Linked DNA regions of Homo sapiens: regions 2, 3 and 4 are each reported to be linked to region 1. Evidence: microRNA targets listed by miRTarBase, many of them from high-throughput screens and not tested one by one. Region 1 holds a microRNA gene; each other region holds the end of a gene's coding sequence.
Evidence for each region. Region 1 holds the annotated microRNA hsa-miR-7152-3p (UCUGGUCCUGGACAGGAGGC, at 1,606-1,625, shown strand). A microRNA usually pairs through its seed, bases 2 to 8, with sites in the 3' UTR of a target mRNA and lowers its output. Matches are read on the target gene's strand: a 7mer-m8 pairs with bases 2 to 8, a 7mer-A1 pairs with bases 2 to 7 and ends in A, and an 8mer does both.

Region 1 (3,000 bases):
GTGCAGCTCCGGGAGATGGTGGGCTGGGGCTCCCGGGCCTCCTATGAGCACAAAGAAGCCACAGGTCTGGTTGGAAGAGACAGTCGTGGTCATTGTTCCCCAGGGTGGTCTGAGAGCTGCCCCACCATCCCTCAAGAAGGGCATGTAAGGTGTGAGGACTACCCCGGAGGGGAGTGGGTCCACCCCTCACTGCTCCCTCCACCCCAGGAGTGCAGGGCATCCCAGGGCCTTCTGGAAGCCCTGGGGAGCATCTATAACTAGAAGTGGGAGGTCAGGGGGTCCTGGGTAGGCCAGTGTAGCCCTCTCCCCACACACATGCACTGACCAGGCTCACCTCCCTCCAGAGGGACAGAATCTCCTCTGTGATGTCCCCTGAGGTGGCACCTGCACTCCTCCAGTCTCCCCAGCCCCTGTTCCTCATCTCTGGCTGGGCATCCCCCCTAGGTGAATTTCATTCTTAAACCTGTCTGTGTGTATGCTCACACATGTGCCCGTGTGTGTCCATACCAAGGCATGTGCGTGGGGTTACACATGTGCACAGACACATATAGGTACATGGGTGCCCACTGATGCGCTCGTGTGCAGACATGCCCACCTGCAGAGGCACACGAGTGCACAACCAGGGAATCCCAGGCCTGTGCGTGCTCCTGGACAAGTGCCTGTGGCCATGTGAACACAGAACTTGATGCACACATGAGTGGGTTTTTCTAGTCATGTATGGCCAGGCCCCCAAAGGCAGAGCATTGTGTGAACACATGTGTTGACAGGCGAGACCCACACATGGGGAGGGGATGTCAGGGAGCCCCAGACCCTCCCGAGGAGCGGCCAGCCTCAAAGGCTGCTGGGAAGGCAGATGTGGCTCTGGGCAGCCGGGGCCTTGCTCACCACTCTCATGTTTTCTCCCCAGCAGGGCTTTGAGGCCGCTCCCCAGGCATCTGCGTTCAGTCTGCCAAGGCTGCCGCAGGCCCGCCCCCAGGGCCTCCCCACCCTGTCCACCTCACCTCCCTCCCCTCTCATCCATCGTCAGCCATGGCTCACCGGGACAGGGCAGGGGAGGTGGGAGGGCAGGGGGCTGGGTTGGTCTTGTGGTGACCCCTCTCCTTCTGGCCCAGGCACCCCTCTCACGGTGCTCAATGGGCCCATCCTGGCCCTGGATGCAGACCAAGACATCTACGCCGTGGTGACCTACCAGCTGCTGGGTGCCCAGAGTGGCCTCTTTGACATCAACAGCAGCACCGGTGAGGCCTCTGTGCCACCCAGCACTCCCAGCCTGATTCTGGGGTGGGGATGGCCACACTGCTGGATTGAGGGCCTCCCTTCTCAGTGCTGGACCCAGGCTGTCCGTGGAGACCCCATTTTTCACAGCCCAGAGTCCCCATCTTGCAGCTGGGTTATATCACCCAGTGGCCTGGCAGGGGGACGTGGGAAGAGGCTTGGAGACGATACACAGGACCTCTGTTGGTGCACGAACTCTCAGCCTGGGCCGGGAGCCCCCCAGCCCACTCCCGTCATCTCCCCATGCGCAGGCCAGAGGCTCAGGCCCCTAGTCCAGCAGAAGTAGCCAGAGCGACTTTCCTGTCCTCCAACCAGACCATGCCACATCCGTCTGGTCCTGGACAGGAGGCCGCTTTGGTGACAGGTGCCGACAGGAAAGCACATCTGTCAACAGAGACGGTCAACCCTGTGCCCTGGGTCACTCTTCCCAGGCAAGAGTCTTGAAGACAGCAGAGGGCACCTGCAGAGGGGACAACCACAGGAAATGCATGGGGCCCTCCCTCAGCACGGGTGGTTGAGCCTGTGGGGGAGAAAGTCATTTTGTTACTGCCTCTGCTCCTCTTTCATCTCTGTCCCATGGTGCCCCTGTCTTTCTCTGCTCTCTCCCTGTTGGTTCTTGCCCTGTCTTCCCACCGCACCCCTTTTCTGTGTGTTTCCCTGGCTGGCGGCACCGGGTGCCAGGTGTGGTGACCGTGAGGTCAGGTGTCATCATTGACCGGGAGGCATTCTCGCCACCCATCCTGGAGCTGCTGCTGCTGGCTGAGGACATCGGGCTGCTCAACAGCACGGCCCACCTGCTCATCACCATCCTGGATGACAATGACAACCGGCCCACCTTTAGCCCTGCCACCCTCACTGTCCATCTGCTAGAGAACTGCCCGCCTGGTAAGCAGGGGACAGGCCCCAGCACCCCACAACCAGGGGCCGGTTGGTGGTCACAGGGGACTGGAGCCTCAGGTTGGACACGGAGTTTGCCTCCAGTGGGGAGAAAGATGGGCAGCAGGGTGAGTGTAGAACACACTGGAGAGGGAGTCAGGAGACCTGGGCCCCTGCTTCCCTCCTCTGAGCTTCTGTATCTTGCCTGCAAAACAAGATTCTTTTTTCCTTTCTTTCTTTTTCTTTTCTTTTCTTTTTTTTTTTTTAAGACGGAGTTTTGCTCTTGTTGCCCAGGCTGGAGTGCAATGGCACAATCTCGGCTCACTGCAACCTCAGCCTCCCAGGTTCAAGTGATTCTCCTGCCTCAGCCTCCCGAGTAGCTGGGATTACAGGCGCCCACCACCACACCCAGCTAATTTTTGTATTTTTAGTAGAGACGGGGTTTCACCCTGTTGGCCAGGCTGGTCGCAAACTCCTGACCTCAGGTGATCCACTCGCCTCAGCCTCCCAAAGTGCTGGGATTACAGGTGTGAGCCACCACGCCTGGCCTACAAGATTCCTAAGTATTCTCCATTTGAATTCCCAGATGGAAAGACTGACTATTTTAAAGTCAAAATAGGATCAACATGATTCCCATCAAAATCAAATATAACTTCTGGAAGAATAAGAAAATTTTGAAAAACATAAGTATAATAAGCCAGATTTGGCTTACCAGATTTTATAACATATTATAAAGCTACAGTATTTAAGGCCATGCAATATGGGCACAAGACTCCAGGACAAAGTAGCCCAGAAACAGATACTGGTAAATTAAAGAATAAAATATGATGTGATAAAGGAAGCAATGAG
Region 2 (3,045 bases), not on the chromosome of region 1:
GCTTCCCAGAACACTGAAGAGCTTAGGGGCCACCACGAGGCTCACACTTGGGGCACATCTATGAACTCCCAAGTCCCTTAAGAAGTAATCCCTCTTTGATCTTCATCTGAACCAGGAAGGCCACAAAGAGGAAACTATGGGCCAGTTTCCTCCCATGGGGCACCAGTTCACTGAGAGTGGTCCTAGGGCCCCTGGGATGGTGGTTCGGCAGGCATGGGGTAGGGCTTCATGAGGGATTCTGAGTCCTGCCAGACTAGGAGAGGCCTCACATTTATAAGACCCAGAGAGGTGAGGGCCCTGGCCCAACATCACACAGCCGGGCAGAACAGAGCTGGGCTGAGGGCTCGGCACTCCTCACTCTAATCCCTGGTGCTTCTTCTCTTGCTGACTGTAAAAATGTCTGCTTTTCTGCCCCAGGTGAACTGGAGATAGGGGTCTCCGGGGCTGAAAGGGGTCTTGCCCCCAGCCCTGCCCCACTCCTTCCCCTCCGAAGCCCTGATTGCTGCACTTGTCCCCAGAGAAATCACCCATATTGATTCACAAGACTTTTAAATTTTATTAGTAAAATACAAAATGGCACAGACGTTGGTGATGAGGGTTGGAAAAGTCTTTCCAAAGTCTTCCTACTCTTTCCAAAGTCTTCCTAGATCATCCTTGTCCATGTCCTGCTTGGAGAAACTAACAAAGTCCATGGAAGGGGGACCAACTGGCCCCAGCGGCTTCCTCACAAAGGAGGCAGGGCCCCATCACAGGGTGTCCCACCCCTGGAAGGCTCTCCCAGCCTGGAAGAGCCAGAACAAAGTGCATTGGGCCCACTCCCACCCTCTCTGAGCTGCCAGAGTGACCCCACCTGAGCCAGGCCCTGAGCTTCCTGAATATGCTGCGCCACACCCAGCAGGGGAGTGCAGAGGCCAGGTGGGCAGGGCAGCACAGCGTCTTGCTCTCTATGGACCAGAGCTGGGTTTCCTTCCTCCAAGCACCCATCTGTGAAGGAGTGTTCCTAGCACCTGGGTAGAACCCAGCCCATAAGAGGCCCCTCAGGTAGACGGCAAGGGTCGGGGACAATCCAAGGGAGAGGTGAGCTGCCACCAGGGACCCTGAGGGGCCAGGCCAGCCGGTGCAGCCCCATCCAGGCATGCTCGAGCCTTCAGCAGCCAAAAAAGGGAACCCCTGACTTTATGCCTACAACTTCCCCTTTCCCATGTCCCAGCCCCCTTCCCGGGTAGCGTCCCTTTCAGAAACAAACAGGGGACTCATGGAAAACATCATGGAAATCCCTGGTCCTGTCTGCGGTGGGGACAAAGGTGAAGGAGAAGGTCTTGGAGGGCAGAGAACAGTGTTTTCAAGGAGTGAGAGAGGTGGGAAGGGAGCCCAGCCTCAGGAAAGAATCTGGCGTGTGTGGGGTGGGACCACAAGGGTCTTGTGGCCTGGCTGCCTGCAGGAGTCTCTGAAGAAGCATCAGGAATGTGGCTGCTCCTGGAGCCTTTCCTGGGCTTCTTGGACATGTGTCTGGAGCCCTCCCTCCCTCTTAGCGGGTGATGGGAGGCAGAGCCCGGGCTGTCTCAGTGACTAAGCCTGGGCGGGGCCTTCAGGGATGGTCTCTGCTCTGCCCATTTCCATTTGGGGGCCCACAGGGCAGGGTCTGTGCTATCAACTCACTCCCTTGCAGGCCCTCTGGGCCTCAGGGTCCAAAGACAAGTTAGTCCATTGGCAGGGACTGTCTAAGGTGCTCTGCTGGTAAGGACTGTGAGGCTGCATCCAGGGGCTGGAGAGAAGGGCCTCAGGTCAATGAGTGTTGTCAGGGGGACAGGTATTCCTTACCTCCCTCTTTCCTTTCACAGATGGGAGTATGTTGGTGGCTTGATGGTGGAACTAGGATCAGAACCCAGCCTTCAGACTCAGCACAGTGTAGACCAAAGAGGAAAGTCACCAGATACCCTTATCTCCCCTTCCCACAATGCCTAACCAAGGGCAGAGCCTCACTGGAAGCAGTGCCAGGAAACACCACACTAGCCTCATGCAAGAAAAGACATGTCACCAGTGGGGGCGTGGGCTCTGTACAGAGGATGGGGCTGGGGGAGATAGCACCGCAGGTGGCCGGGGTGACTGGCAACTGCAGCAGGACCAAGAGACACAATCAGGTTGCAGGGAGTGGGCAGAGGGCCTGGCCTGATGCTCATGTGTGAGATGGGAGGACTGTAGTACTCACAGGGCAGCATGGGTCAGAAGGGGCTGGGCATTTAATAAATAATTGTTCATTGGGGCTGGGATGGCGTCAAAGGGAACCTCTAACCAGCCAGCAGCAGAGGAGAGTTTTGGGGCTGGGGTGAGTTGGGAGGCCACCCCCTCTGTCCCTGGCAGGTGGAGAATGGTCAAGGCTGGCCTCCTGGGGAATGCCTGGGAGCTTGGAGCTTGTGCACCTGGAGGATCCCACCTCCCCCCTCCAATCATCCCAGCTCAGGCCAGGCCCTTGGGTGGGGGTGGGTATGAGGATGAGGGATCCCAGGCAGCTGTCTGAATCAAACAACTAGACACAGGCCAGAGGAGTTCACACGGGCACCAGGACATATGAATTACTACCACAGCTCCGGGGGATGTAGCGAAGGCCCTCCGCCATCTCTCCTGCCATCTTTCGAGGGCAGCCCTGGAGGCTCTGGTAGGTGAACATGGCCACCCCCAGGCAGAAGAGGAGGCCAAGGAAGGCCAGCAGCCCCACCGCCTGCCTCCGGGTGGCAGCCTGGGCGTCAGGGACAGGAGTGATAAGGACGCCCAGCCTCTGGGGGTCCATGGTGGCATGGATGGGTTCCTCAGCCTTAGGGGTCCAGCTGCCTGAAGCCACTGGCTCCCTGCTGGGGGTCCCTTCTGAGGAGACAGGGACCACAGAGACGTGGGCCATGCTGCCAGGCCCCCAGTCCTGGAAGGCATCCGTGTGCGCTGGCACGGGACCCATCTCCTCCCGCTCCAGAGAGTTCTCTGGCCTGGGGCTCTGTCCCTGACCCCACACACGCTGGCCTTCAGACGGAGCATTCTCCTCTGGGGCTGGGG
Region 3 (6,383 bases), not on the chromosome of region 1:
TAGGCATCATGGCAAAACCCCATCTCTACAAAAAATACCAAAATAAAAAGAATTAGCTGGGCATGGTGGCACATACCTGTAGTCCCAGCTACTTGGGAGGCTGAGGTGAGAGGATCACTTGAGCCCGGAAGATCAAGGCGACAGTAAGCCATGATGGCACCACTGCACTCCAGCCTGGGTGACAGAATGAAACCCTGTCTCAAAAAACAAACAAACAAAAACCAAACAAATTATAGGAAAATCAACATTTTAAACCAAAGAAGAGAAGGAGAAAGAAGGGAAGGGAAGCCATAAAAGTGTCTTTTTCAAATAGATCATGGGGGAAAAAAAAAAAAAGTATGACTTGGAATAGAGACAGCCTTACAAGCAGGATCTAAAACTCAGAATCCATTTTTTTAAATTGTGATAAATTTGACTATAGAAAAATGTAAACTTTGGATACAAAAGTACCATATTTAAAGTAAATAAGCTACAACTATTACATGACAGAGAAAATGTCCTCAAACTTCTAAGGAACTTCTAACAAGTAGAAAAAAAACACACACAACCCCAAAGCAAACACCAATAGTCAATAAATATATGAAAGTGTTCAATGTTACTCATAATAAAGGCATACAAATCAAACCATGAAATGCTATTTTTCATTAATCACAACTTTGCAAAAATTAAATGATTAGATCTGATGTCAATAAAGATGTAGAGAGATGGAAGGCAATTTGATAACTTCTGTCAAGATTTTAAGTAGTCACTAAACCAAGTTCCAGTACTAGGAATGAATTTGTCCTTTAAGTATGGTACTTAAGGATGTTGACTGCAGCATTATTTGAAATATCAAAAACTGAAAATCTAAAAGTCCATCAATAAAATCTAGTTAAATACATTTTCAATCCATCAACAGAATTAATTGCTATGAAGTTGTTTTAAAAACCTATACATATAGAAATGGAAAATGCCTAAGATATATTACATGAAAAAGATAAGATACAGAATAGCGTTGCAAAGGTAGAAGTTCATTTGCATTTTAAAAACTGAAAAGGAGAAATAATACATATGTGCACAGAAACATTCTGGGAAGCTACTCAAAAAACTATTAATAGTGATTGTCTCTGCAGAGTCCAAATAGGAGGCGGGGAGAGATGAAAAGGGAACTTTTAAAATATATATTTGAATTTTTCTTTACTACGTGAATTTTTTCCCATGCACATATATAACTTTGACAACTTTAAGGCACTCAACAAAAGAACATCGCAACTAAGGCACACTGAATAATTAATAAAGACACAAACCTCAAAGTAGTTTTTTTCAAACATTTACTGAACACAAACACCATTTTTTCCTTTTACACAGCAAGATTGTTAGTTTCAAATTAGCTGAGTTATTAGGACTGTCAATTGCCATGAAACTAAAAATGACTCTACATGTCAAACTCAAATAGAAAATGTCATGCAATATATAAATCACTAATGGACCTCTGGTGCAGTCAGCAAGTTTACTATGTTTATTAAAGTCACATAAATGGTTTGACAAAAGTGCACAATAGAATGACATCACCGGTTTGTTATAAATCACAGTGAATTACTAGAATACAACAGTGTAGTTCCTCTGCACGGAGGATTGCAGGATGGGGTGAAAAGGACAGGGTCTTTTCCATCGATTAGGCCAGTCAGATTTTACTCCCCAACTGTGTACCTTTGAAAAGACTGTGAGGAAAGCTGAGTTTCTTTCCTCATCTTTTCTCCTCTACCAGTTACTAAGCAACAACAACAAAAAGCCATGCACAAATTTTACAACACCTGATAAAAAATAGATACAAAATCTTGTTCATTTCATCATTTGGCAAGCTTGCATCTTCGCTCCTTCACTTTTCTGATTAGGCCATTCATCACATGACTCACCCTGAATAAAAGCTGTAAATAATTTAGCAATACTTACCCCTATACACACATCAAGATACACTCCCCATAACCATCAAGTCACTGTCTCTTCCCTACACATTAACACAAAGGTACACACCACAAACCTAGAGACCACATTTACTTTACAGTTTTAAAAATTAATATATCTCCACTATCAATAGTGTAGTATTTATTTCAGATCCCTTATTTGGGGGAGGGCATGCTGTATAACCCAGCCCATCTAAAGATTTGGGCAAGTCTGCCAGAAATACATAAGAAAGCCCTGCAATGTGATAAACACATAGGAGTTTTCTACTTTCAAGAGATGACATCCAGAACAAAGCTATGCATTTTCAGAGTAGGAATGGACACACAGCTTAAAACCTCTGGACTAAAAATATTTCATAGCACAAAAGGCAGAGTTTTGTTTTCTTTAACCCCTTTTTAATGTTATATAGTCAGTGAGAAAAACAGAATAGTCATGTGTGCATCAACACATCTAATTTGAAAAGGAACATTTAAGATTCTTACAGAAAATCTATCATAAAAAACAAGTCCTTTATACTTTCATTCATTTACTCACTAATTCAGCCACTGGCTGTTTCTAAACCAGCAAACTAATCAAAGGTCTGGCAACTCACTCCTCATCCCACCCCATTCCAAAAAAAAAAAAGAAACGCTTCTGCTTAAATAACCCAAAGTGGTCTTATTCATAAAGTAGCTGCCTCAACTATAGTGAAAACTCTTAACAGGGTGTTGCTCACTTGAAATTTTAATTTTCAAAACATTTGTCAAACAGAGTTGGTATTTAGAAAGCTGCTGCCCCCAAATCATATTTTACTTCAAACAATGTTATCATACCTAAGTTCTCACAATTACCAATTATTAGTCCACTATTAGTATAATGAAATAAAACCCTTCTCAGAAACAAGCAGACCAAAGCTTACAGATGGTCTGCTTTGGGGTTTGGTTTATTTAAAATTCCCACAGCAAAGAACCTTAACGTGATTGGGCTGTGGGCTACTAGAGCAACCAGGGTGGACTGAAAAAGCTATGTTTTCAGTGTCAGTTCTAATGTAAAAATGTTCCCCTTCTTTATCAATCGAGGGGATGGGTTTGCCGCCCATTCCTTGAGTTAAATAGTTAACTTCATAGTTCAATTTTGCCAACTCTATCAAGTGCATAAAACCCACTTAAGTTTCTCATGATTTGCGAATGAAAACATCCACCTGGGCCTCCCTAGCTCATCCAGATTTATATAACAATTACTGAACAGGACAGAGAAGTTTTGGTTGAATCTGTAATACCATCAATGAAGATTTACAATTCAAAGCATAAGTATACCAATAGTAAACATCAAATGACCAAAGTGGCTGCAAAATGGAGACAGCCTAGAGTTCACAGAGGGCTGAGATATAGAACTATCATTTTCTTACCTATTTTCCTTTTTTAAAAAAAAATTAAGTTGGGGAAGGGTCTGGCTAAACATATTTTCAAACAATTCTACCAAAAACATTTTAAAAAAACAGGCATGTAGATCACTTATTTCAAAAATGATTTTATACAGGTGTTTCACAATACACATTTGGATTGATTTTACAAGATAGAATTAGATTCTCAGCAAGATACTACACAATTTACCACTATACTAAACAAACAAAAAATCTAATTACCATTAGCATAGTTCATAGTTTATTCCACTGTCTTCAAATTCGTTCTCCACCCTGTCAGCATTTCAATCAACAGTTTTACTTTCTTCAGCATTGTCTTCCCTTCTCAAAATAGAATGTCATTAAATTTTGATGTCTGAATATGTACATATAATCATTATTCTCATTTTATAAATAAGCAGTGTCTTAAATAGTGCTGGTCCTGGGTAGCCAAAGGGATGAAATGTGTTTTTAAAACATGCAACATTATCTGATATTTTAAGTTTTGATGTTTAAATAAAAATAATATACATTAATAATGGAACCAACTGAATACCAAGTATCAAAGCTATTCCTTAGACTGTCCAATAAGCAGGCCTTGTAGTTTGAAAAATAAAGGGTCTGATCTGAACTGTGGAAAAAGCATGATTCACTCACCTTGAAGAAGTGCATTTTCTCTTTCAGGCCACTGAGAGTTGCTAAGAGCAAGGTACAGTATTTCCTTGATTCATACCAGGAGGATCAAGTCTGGTAATTTTCAAATTAGGGCTCACTCAAATAAATACCTCCATTTAAGCCAACCTAAAAACCTTCCTTGTAAAATCTCAGGTTAGGAAAATAGGTATCTATTACCATGACAGAATTTACCATCAAAACCTTCCTAACTGAAGCAAGAAGACAAAGTATAATGATAGCAACTGTAAAAAGTATCTTGCATCCTTGGGGGATAGTCCCCCCTTCTGTCCCCTCCCATCCTTCAAAATATTTCATTTTGTGGGGTATCTCTATTTTATTTAAGGCCCTAGGGTGCTGATTTTGGCTTGGTCATTGTTTTATACTGATCCAACTGCAACCTTTCTCTTACACTTTACAAAGCATTATCCATATATAAAATGTTAATTGAAACCTTTTTTTTTAAGTTTATATCTGATGCTGCTACATCATTATAATGCTTTTCATTAAAGAAAAAAAAAAAGCTACAGGTCTTCACTTACAGTACCATGCACTATGAGTAGCTAAGGCATTCATTTGGCACTAGAGAGAAAATTACAGATACAGCTAATTTTGCTTTCATTATCATTTTTAACATCAATAGAAATAAGCATATAACTTTCACTTGAATTTCTGTAATGCTTAAAAGATAATCACAGAATACCCTTTTAGTTTGACAGTTACAATGTTGCCATTAAAACAAAACAAAAAAACCATAAAGACCTCTGTATAGCCTGTAGGAATAAGTGACATTTTGTGGTTGAAAAATTTGCAGCTCTCAGACACAATTACCTTTCAAGTGGCATTGAGAATTATTTTCATCATAAAAAACATGTAAGTTCCTATACCACACTAGTGATATTTCTACTTCTTGTCACAGACTAAGAAAGTGAAAAAATTCAAACATATCCTGGTTCCTTTTCATCTGTCATAAGTAAAATACCTTATTAGGGAGGCATAAATAATGCCTTCTGGAAAAGTAGTTTCCAAATTTTAAAAGATACAGGAGAAAAAGGGAAAAGGGGACAAAAATAGAATGTATAACTACACTGTGACAATTTGTTTCATAAGAAAACAGCATTCATAATTTTTACATGTCTATGAGCTGAATCAAATAGACTGCTGCAATTTAGATAAATTTCATTAAAATAGACTTTGAAGAATTCAAGCCTAAAGGCAGAGTCCATCAAGATTCTCTGAAAAGTTGGTTTAAGATGATAACCATTTTGTATATACTACCCAGCATAATGCAACAATTTCAAATGGATTTAAATTTATAAATTTGTAACTATTATTAAATTAGCACATTTTCCAGATTAATCTGCAGCTATTTTTTAAAAATCCTCCTGAATGCTAAAATGTGCTGCATCACTCCGTATAAATAATGGAAGAGTGTAAACTATCTACAGCAGTTTGGCATGTGCAGAACACCTGGATATCCCATTCCTCTTAATGTTCCTTTTTAGCTCTTTTTCTTCATAAAATCCTCAAAACTGCTGCATGGATAACATGCTGACATAGGCTTAACAGAAATACTTTTGTAAGCAGCTGTTTAAAACATTATCAACTTGAAATTATAAATGTCCCTTGTTACATAAACAAAACATTTTATATCTGTTCCTTTAAAAAAAAGAAAGACAAATAGGTAACCAATATGCAAATACCTTATAGTTACACCAAAACAATGTGGTTTTGTTAAAGTCTGTCTGAAATCAATTACCATGAGGCAAGAAAAACAAATACAGAACTAAGGAAGGATGGGATGGGAGGAAGGGTAGTGGAAAGAAAAGCAGAATTTATGAACACATAATTCTACTGTCTGTGATTAAAAGTCCTTTACTTTTTAGCACCACATTAAACGACTTTACATATCCAGTCACTTAATGAAATCCAACAAACTCTTCAAGAGTTCTGGGGATCTGGTCTTGGTAGTTAATGTCATTAGCCCGAACTGCTCGGGCAGCCAGGCACTTGAGACTCATCTTCATTTGAGTTTTAAGCAGTATTTCAGATACCCCAGTTGTACTTTTGTCTAGCGGAGTCTTATTCTGTTTATTCGTCATGTCAGTGTGAGCTCCGGCTTCAACTAGGCTAATGATGATGGAGTGCAAGGTCAAAAAATCACTGATGGGCCTGTTGTACTGAACGATAATATGAAGGGCACTGTTTCCCTCATTGTCCACGGCATTCACCTCAGCACCACAGTCCAGCAGGAGCTTTGTGACAAGTGCATTTGGAAAGCTGCAGACGTCATTGGTGTGGAAATCATCAACTGGAGTATTGGAATTGACAGCCAGATGCAGCAAGGTGAAACCTTCACGAGTTCTGGGATCAAGGTGAATCAGGT
Region 4 (7,858 bases), not on the chromosome of region 1:
CCTCATGGGACCTTTCAGTGCAGCATTTTCCTGACTTCCCTTTCAAAATTGCCCCCTCTTCCCTTTCCTGTCCCATCCCAACCTCCCTATCTTCCTTCTTTGAGTCTCTCCAGTGCCTTCATGGCTACCTTTTACTGTGATTATTGTCAATCTAGAGCCTCCTGGCACCCAGCACACAGTAAGTGCTCAGGGGTCACCTACTATATGATGGGCAGAAGCCTGTTCTTACCTCCCAGGGTGTCCGGGTTTCCACGGGGCCCAGCACAGGGAAGTGGGGACACTCAGTAGCAAATGTGAGGCGTCAGGATGTGATCTGCGTCCTCATTCAGCAGCAGTACTCAGAACCCCCACCCACCCGGCGGCTCTGTCCCAGCCCAGCCTGGCCCAGCATCCTCGATCTTACTCTCAGCCTCCAGGCCCTCCTGCTCCCGTTCCTGCTCTGAGCTGCTGCCGGAGGGACCTTTCTAACACACGACTCTGATGCATGGTGAGGAAAGCCTTCAGGGGCTCCCCATTTCCACTGCCTGGTCTAGAGCTGAATTGCTTCTCCACGGAGTGTGTTCCTTCCCGAACAACACCCCCAGATCTCACCCATCACCCCCAATGCCCAGGACTCTCAGACTAGGTCCAGGCCCAGGGACACTAACTTCAGCTCTGGCCTCAGCCTGCCTGGAGAAGGCCTCAGCATTGACTTCACACCTCTGCCAGTTGGATGATCACTGGGGTCAGCACCATTGCCCACTGGGCAGCAGGAGGCAAAGGGCCTGGGGGGCCTGGATCCCAGACAAACAGCCGCAGCCCAGCCCAGCCCCCAGCCCAGCCCAGCCCAGCCCCCCAGCCCCCAACACCCAGCCCAGCCACAGCCCAGCACCCTCCCAGACCCCAGCCCCCAACCCCCAGCCCAGCCCAGCCCCAGCCCCACAAGTGGCCCATTCCAAGGCCTGTGCAATCTCCCAGCAGGCATACCTAAGGGAGGGCCAGGAGGGGATGGTTCAGGAGCTCAAAGGGTGTCCTGTTGCCAAGGCTGCACCCTGCATTTCACAGCCTGGTGATGCAGGTCATACCCTGCATATAAATGCACCCAGCGGGTCAGGACTTGTCAAGGCCTCACTCAGCAGCTGCTAATTGGTGGCCACCTCCGCAGCCTCCCCTGTTCTCAGCCCCGCAGCTGCTCCTGCCCTGCCCACTGCACCACCGCCCACTCGCCTATTCCCCGACTCCCCCACTGTATGGGTTGGGGGCCTGCAGCATCCCAGGGCAGGCTAGTCTTCTCTGGCCCTGCATCACCTGCCCTCTCTGGGCTCATGTGTTCTGGGCAGCCCGGCTGAGCTGGACAGGAGGGAGAGGGAACCCCAGATCTACTCCCCTGCCGAGACATGGGCAAGGAGACTGCTCCCCTCCCTTTTCTCTGTGACCAGAATCATCCAGCTCAGAGAGACTGTCAGATCTGTGAGACTTAGAAGGGGTCTGGGCCTGGGTGGGTGGAGGGTTGGGGGCACAGGACCACAGAGGAACATTCCCATCCTGGGTGCCAGACCAGCTGGGGTGGCTGGTGCTCCGGACAGGCACGAAGGCCGCACAAGGCAGGGCAGGACTTGGAAGTTTCCCTCCATTCCAAATGAGGCTTCTTCCTGGGGCAGCCCTGGTCCCTTTCCTACAAGGAAGCAGGTTGGAAGCCCCTCTCCCCAGACCCAGCCTGTTTCTGGCTCAGAGACCCCTTGAACTCGTCCTCAGGGCCGCCCCACCATCCCCATGTCTGATGCCCTTGAAGTGAGGGTCTCCCAAGTGCCAAATGGTTTATTACTTGGATTTTCATGCCCAGCTGCCTCTTGGCGCCTGCCTCCCTCCCTCCTTCCCTCCCGCCTCCCGCCCTCCTCCTGCCTCTGAGCACCACCTGTCTCTCCAGCCTGCCTCAGCAACCCCTGCTTGCCTGTTGCCAGGGAAACCGCCTCCTTGGCAACCAGCCGGCATCCATATGACACGTACACTCAGGAAGGAAAGGCTTCTGCTCTTGCTTAGGCTGTTGGTGGGCTCTGCTCCGGAGTCCAACAGGTTCTGAGGGAGGGTCTGGTCTGTGATCCCAGAGAGGGGAGGTGGGCAGGCCTCATGCTTCTCTTGACCATTCAACAGCAGTTTATTAAGCACCTACTACTTCCCTGACTGTGTGTGTGGCCCTTTGTGCACAGTATCTCATTTAATCATGCATTGAACCTGCAAAATAGATGTGATTATTCCCATTTTACAGACGTGGAAACTGAGGCATGGAGCGGTTAAGGGGTTGCCTTTGGCTGGCGCAGTCAGAGCCGAGATTCGAACCTACTCTTGTCTGACTTTAAAGCCCCGGTTCTTTCTACCATCCTGAGGTCTCTGGCTAGGCCTTTCTTAGCTGGGCCAAGAGTGAGTGGGCCTAGGACACACCCGAGTGACGGGGAAGCCCCCTTACCATAGCTCATTTGGTGCTGCTCCCTTTGTGCCAAGCACAGCTGTAGAATCAGAAACCCAGAGATAGACTAGGCATGGTCCCTGCCCTCAAGGGGTTCCCATCTGGTGAGATGCTGGTGGGAGCAGGACTCCGACATGACCCAGTGCAGGAGCCGTGAGGCCAGGGACAGGGCCTCCAAGCCCAGCTGAGCTCAATACTGACTCGGGCTTCCTGGGAGGAGGCTTGGGCTATGGGGGGACCGTGGTCAGAGAGTGGGTGGCAGGAGCTTGAGACCTCCAGGGAGGCGCATATGGGTGATGACAGCAGCCCAGGTGGCCCAGGAGGGGTGGCTGAGGGGAATGAAAGGAAAGTGACAGGCAAGGGGGATGAGGGGTGTGCTGAGAACCAGGATTGGACTCTGGAATCCCCCAGCAGGGCACAGGCTCGATGACCAGGGAGTGTGACCCCAGTGGGTGCCTGGGTTATCCTTGAATACAGGCTGGGGTGGGGGTTGGGGAGAGCTAGAGGGTATGGGTGGGTGGGAGGACCCTCACAGGGGCCGGGGCTTTGAACAGGGGGGTGAAGGCAGAGGTCATGGGGGCATCCTATTGGAGCAGTGGCCACAGGTATCATGCAGGGGGCTGCTGGCTGCCAAGCCCTTAAGAGCCTAGGGACAGGCAGGGACAGCAGGAGGAGGCCTGGCCCTTTCTCTTGCCAGCCAGGTGGAAGCCTGGATAGAACCCTCCAGGTGGAATACAAGGCTCTACTGGAGGTCCTTAAGGGAGGTTAGGGAGGTGGCCGAGAACAGAGAGGGGTCAGCCCTTTACAGGCAGGGAAGGGGAAAGGTGACTCTGGGAAAGGGGGTGGCAGGTGCAAAGGTGTGGCTGGGCTTCACCCTCCCCTGGGCTCCCACGGTGGGGTGTGTAACAGGCAGGGGGCTGGCTGCTGGGGCCAGGGACTGCCCCTCTACACACTTGCCCCTGATCCTGGCACCCCGTTTCCTGTAGGCTCTGCAGCGCCGCGAGACCGAGGTCTATGCCTGCATCGAGAATGAGGATGGCAGCTCACCCACCGCCAAGCAGAGCCCCCTCTCCCAGGTACACAGGCGCTGGGGCACCAAGCCTGGCTTCTTGCTCCATCTGACCCTCCCATCACTGGTGAAGTGGGGGGGCAAATGGGACATGGAAGTGAGCCACCTGCTGTGGAATCCCAGCCATCTCCTGGTGGCAGCTGGCCTGCTGGTTAAGAGGACTGGTGCGTTTGAGTTCCTGCTCTGTCCCTTAGCCACTGTGCAGCCCTGGCCGAGGTGTCTGACTTCTCTGTGTCTGAATCTCCTTGTGTGCAGATTGAGCAACCTAACAGTACCCACCTCATAGATGTTCAGTGAGGGTAGAATGTACTGAGAGAGCTGCCTGGGACCCAGCTGTGCCCATGCACTATGAGCCACTGTAACTATCACTGGGCACAGTGTCCACATGGTCAGTCAGACAGGGGTGTTAGGCTTCCAGCTGCCCCCAGGTTGGTGTTGGCTAAAGTCTGGAGCTAGAGTGTGAGCTGGTAGAAGCTGGGCTGGCCTGGTCAGGGTTCTGTGATTGTCATGATAGGGCCTCAGGCATATTACCCAATCATACTTTCTCTCTTTTTTTTTGTTTTTGTTTTGTGTGTGTGTGTGTGTGTGTGTGTGTGTGTTTGTTTGTTTTTGTTTTTGTTTTGAGACAGAGTCTTGCTCCATCACCCAGGCCAGAGTGCAGTGGCGCGATCTCAGCTCACTGCAACCTCCACTTCTCAGGTTCAAGCAATTCTCCTGCCTCAGCCTCCCGAGTAGCTGGGATTACAGGCGCCCGCCCCTGTGCCCAGCTAATTTTTTGTGTTTTTAGTACAGACAGGTTTTCACCATGTTGGCCAGGCTGGTCTCGAACTCCTGACCTCATGATTCACCCACCTCAGCCTCCCAAAGTGCTGGGATTAAAGGTGTGAGGCACCGCGCCCGGCCCATACTTTCTCTCTTAAACCTGTTTGCTCATCTGTAAAGTGGATGAGCAGTGTTTTCCTGCAATACCAACTGCCTCTGAATTCAAATGTGTTCCAAGCTGAATAACATCTGCACCAGAGCTTCCAGCACCGTCAAGCGTGAGGCGTTGTTCAGCCAGAACAGGAGCCCACAGGCCTCTTGGAACATCTGTCAGGGAGTGCGGGCGCCTGGCACTTGGCCTTCTCTGGCTCGGGCTGGCACTATTTGTTAAATCGCCTGTTCTCAAAGCCCTTTCTATACTCAGCCCTCAACTAGACCCTGAGTGAAAGCAGGGACATCTCCGGCAGTGCCCACCCTGTGCCAGGCCCTGGGGTGCTGGACAGGAGAACTAGGCATGTCCCTACCCTCTGGGAGCCATAGTCTGCAGGAATAGGTCGCTGACCCCATGGACACACAGAGGCATTTGTAGCCCTGTTGTGAGGGGTGTTCTTCTGGGAGGGACCAGCCAGGGTGGGGAGGGAGGGAGGGGGTCCCTGGGACCCTATGATGAGCCCGCAGGCAGAGTGAGTAGGGGGCAGTCATGGAACAGGTGTGTCTGTGGGAGGAGGCGCATCCCACACATAGGGCAGAAGGCAGAGGGCAGAGCTGTGGGGGAAGCTCTGAGGCTGGAAGGGCAGGCCCATGTGGCTGGAGGGCAATGGGCAGGGGTGGGGGCAGCATGGTGGGGGAAGAGGCTGGGGAGGTGGGCTTGGAGACAGAGGGCAGGCCCCCCATCAAAGCTACACAGGAAGTGATCTGTTGCCCTCTGGCTAAAACTAAATTAGTGCAAGTTCATTCTTAATGGTCATTCTCTCTCTTTCTCTCCTTCCCTCCCTTTCTTCTTTTCTATCCAGGAGAGACCGCATAGATTCGAAGATGATGGCGAACTTAACCTGGTCTATGAAAATCTCTAGGATGGGCTCCACCGCTCATAGAGCTTGCCCTGGGTCAGAGGACCGGGGCAGCCCCTGCCACCAAAGGACTTGATCTGAGTTGGGAGTAAGGCCCCCAGGGACACCCCATCATTTCACCCTCACATTCAAGGCCCTTCCTGTCTTGGCCGGCCCCACTGCCCCCCCATTCTATGCCCCAACCACCAAGGCTTTCCCATCTTGGGGCCTTTGCCCAGGCTGTTCCTTCTGCCAGGCAGGCCCTTCCTCCCTTGGCCCAACCAGCAAAGCGCCCCTCAGTCTTCAAGGGCTTTCCTGGATGCCACCCTTGCCCAGAGCCCTGCTCACTGCCTCATGCTGACAGAGCAGCATGCTCTCTTGGCACCAGCCTGCACCTCAGCCAGTAGGGCAGCCTCTGAGCTGAGGGAGGACCCTGCAGGGGCGCCTAGCAGTGCTGTGTGGGGAGCCGAGGTATGGAGGAGCTGGGGAGCAGCTATGCAAATCCCTACCTACCCAGCTGGGCCAGAGGCACGAGGCAGCCAGGCAGGGTGGGAGCAGGGGCTGGCGTGGGAGGTCTGGGGGACAGACAAGGATGATGGACCCCTCAGAGGCAAGACTAGGATCAGGGACAGATCTGGAGGCCCAGGACATGGCTGAGAGGTGGTCAGCAGGCTGGGGGCATGGAGCAGAGAGGGCTTGGGTACAAGCTGGAGAGGAAGGAGATTCTGGCATGTTGGGGTGAGGGCAGAGGGACAGATGAGGGGAGGAGGGTGCTGGCTAAACAGGAACTGAATGAATGGCCTGAAGCTCCCTCTCCCAAGGGTTCCCACTCCCATTGGCCTGGCCCTGTACGTGCACTCTGTCATCTCCTTGGTCACCCTCTGCTCCAGGCCTTCTCCACCACAGGACCTCAGCTGTCCCTCCTTCTACCCAAGGTGGAGTCCCCCAAAGTCCCTTCTGTCTGGCCTATCCTGTGCCCACCACCTGTGGCTTCATCCAGCCCTCCTCCTCTATCTTTATCTGCCATAGGCCGCAGCCCTGGCCCCCTGTGGATTGAGGTCCCAAGTGGTCCAGCTGTGGGGTTTGGTGCTGGGACCCTCAATGGCAGCCGGAAGGTCCCTCTGAGGCAGAAGCTCAAGCCCCATGGGGACAGTGGCTCCCCAGTGCCTGGCCCTGAGCCATTTCTGCTGTTTCAGGTGCCCACATCACCCTCATTTCCTCCTCGCAGTAGCCCTGCACCGTGGCCAGAAACCCATCCACAGGCAGGCAGTGGCTGGGGTCCGGGTGCCCCGGGCTGTTGGGCTCTGCTTCCTCCCTCTGCTCCCCCATGTCTCCCTGAGTTCTCCCACCTTTGCTCATTTGTAAAATGGGCAGGTCAATCTTCCCACCCCACCGTGTGGGCTGCCCCAACCCCAAATGTGCCCAGGGAGGGGGGGGAACCCAAGGCACAGGCCCCGCCCCTGCCCCCAAGCAGCACTGGGCTACTGGCTCACAGAAGCACCTTTGGTTCTGCAGGTCATGCCCCTCCCTGCAGGGAAGGGAAAGCTGGTGGTAGAGGCTGGGCACAGACTGACGTCCAGAAGAAGTCCCTTGGCCCTGCTAGGGTGGCACCAGACTTCTCTGGTCCCACAGGACAGCCAGTGGCCTCCCAACTTGGTTCTGGGCCCCCGCCTGCAAGCACACATGGCAAGGAGGGCTTTAGCAGGCTCACATAACCGAGTGGCAAGGCCCCTGCTCCCAGAGGCTGGATTTGAATGAACTCCGGGCCTGTTTGGGGAGGTGAAGCTGCCAGGTGTGCACAGGGGCCTCCCAGGCTCCTGGCTCCACCAGCCAAGGAGGTGGGGGCAAGGGTCAGGGCAATGGGGGACAATGCCGCTCAGGGTGCAGTGAGCTCCCCTGGGAAAACCGAAGCCAGCAAGACCAGGAGAGGGCCACCTCACTGGGCCTGCCTCCCCCACCTCCTGGGCCTCTCTGACCTCAGCTCCTAGACCCTGGACCCTTGGCTGGGACTCAGCATTTTCCAGTCTTTTTCAGGGGTAGACAGGGGAGCCTGGGTTAAACTTTACCACTGTGCCCTGGCCCAGGCATCACCAACACGGCCTCCCTGCAGCTGCCCTGCCACCGACAGACCCCGATTAAACCCACACCTGGCCTTGGCCTCCCCTGCTCTATACCTTGCATGGTTTTTGCCTCACTTGGAATAAAATTCCAACTCCTCCCTGTGGCGTAGGAGGTTCTTGGGGGCTGACCCATCACCCCTCTGGTGGACAGAGACATTGCCAGCGTGGTGGTCGTCTGTGCTTGGTTCAGGGCAAGGCTGGGAGGCAGTGGGTGCTGAGGTCTTCAGTGAGCAAGGAGAGAGGCAGGGAGGAGGAGGAGGAGGAGGAGAGCACAGCATGAAAGGACGGGACCCTAAAGGGCTTTGGCCCAAGGGAGGGTGGGGCAAGAATGTTCTGAGACTTCTGTGGGCAGCAAAGAGGACTGAGCACCTGTTCTCCAGCCCCCAGGACTGAGAGCCTGCAGAGACAAGCTGGC

Region 2: the mRNA of CX3CL1 is a reported target of hsa-miR-7152-3p. Seed matches in the 3' UTR shown: 7mer-m8 at 1,278-1,284.
Region 3: the mRNA of FEM1B is a reported target of hsa-miR-7152-3p. Seed matches in the 3' UTR shown: 7mer-m8 at 3,762-3,768.
Region 4: miRTarBase lists NFAM1 as a target of hsa-miR-7152-3p. The part of its 3' UTR that is shown has no 7-base or 8-base seed match.

Annotation. Positions count from the first base shown.
Region 1 is chr10:71,789,176-71,792,175 of GRCh38, forward strand. It overlaps MIR7152 (microRNA 7152), which reads left to right and starts at 1,572; the gene lies at 1,572-1,625. It overlaps CDH23 (cadherin related 23), which reads left to right. Exons shown (of 70, transcript NM_022124.6): 46 at 1,113-1,238; 47 at 1,957-2,160. RefSeq lists an enhancer at 1,113-2,012.
Region 2 is chr16:57,382,536-57,385,580 of GRCh38, reverse strand. It overlaps CX3CL1 (C-X3-C motif chemokine ligand 1), which reads right to left. Exons shown (of 3, transcript NM_002996.6): 3 at 537-3,045. The coding sequence ends at 2,549. Among named protein-coding and RNA genes, the nearest start is that of CX3CL1, 12 kb to the right of the region's middle. RefSeq lists enhancers at 910-1,069, 489-1,178, 1,179-1,869.
Region 3 is chr15:68,290,776-68,297,158 of GRCh38, reverse strand. It overlaps FEM1B (fem-1 homolog B), which reads right to left. Exons shown (of 2, transcript NM_015322.5): 2 at 1,297-6,383. The coding sequence ends at 5,917. It overlaps ITGA11 (integrin subunit alpha 11), which reads left to right. Exons shown (of 30, transcript NM_001004439.2): 30 at 1-627. Among named protein-coding and RNA genes, the nearest start is that of FEM1B, 16 kb to the right of the region's middle.
Region 4 is chr22:42,382,650-42,390,507 of GRCh38, reverse strand. It overlaps NFAM1 (NFAT activating protein with ITAM motif 1), which reads left to right. Exons shown (of 6, transcript NM_145912.8): 5 at 3,430-3,519; 6 at 5,288-7,858. The coding sequence ends at 5,347. Among named protein-coding and RNA genes, the nearest start is that of LINC01315, 17 kb to the right of the region's middle.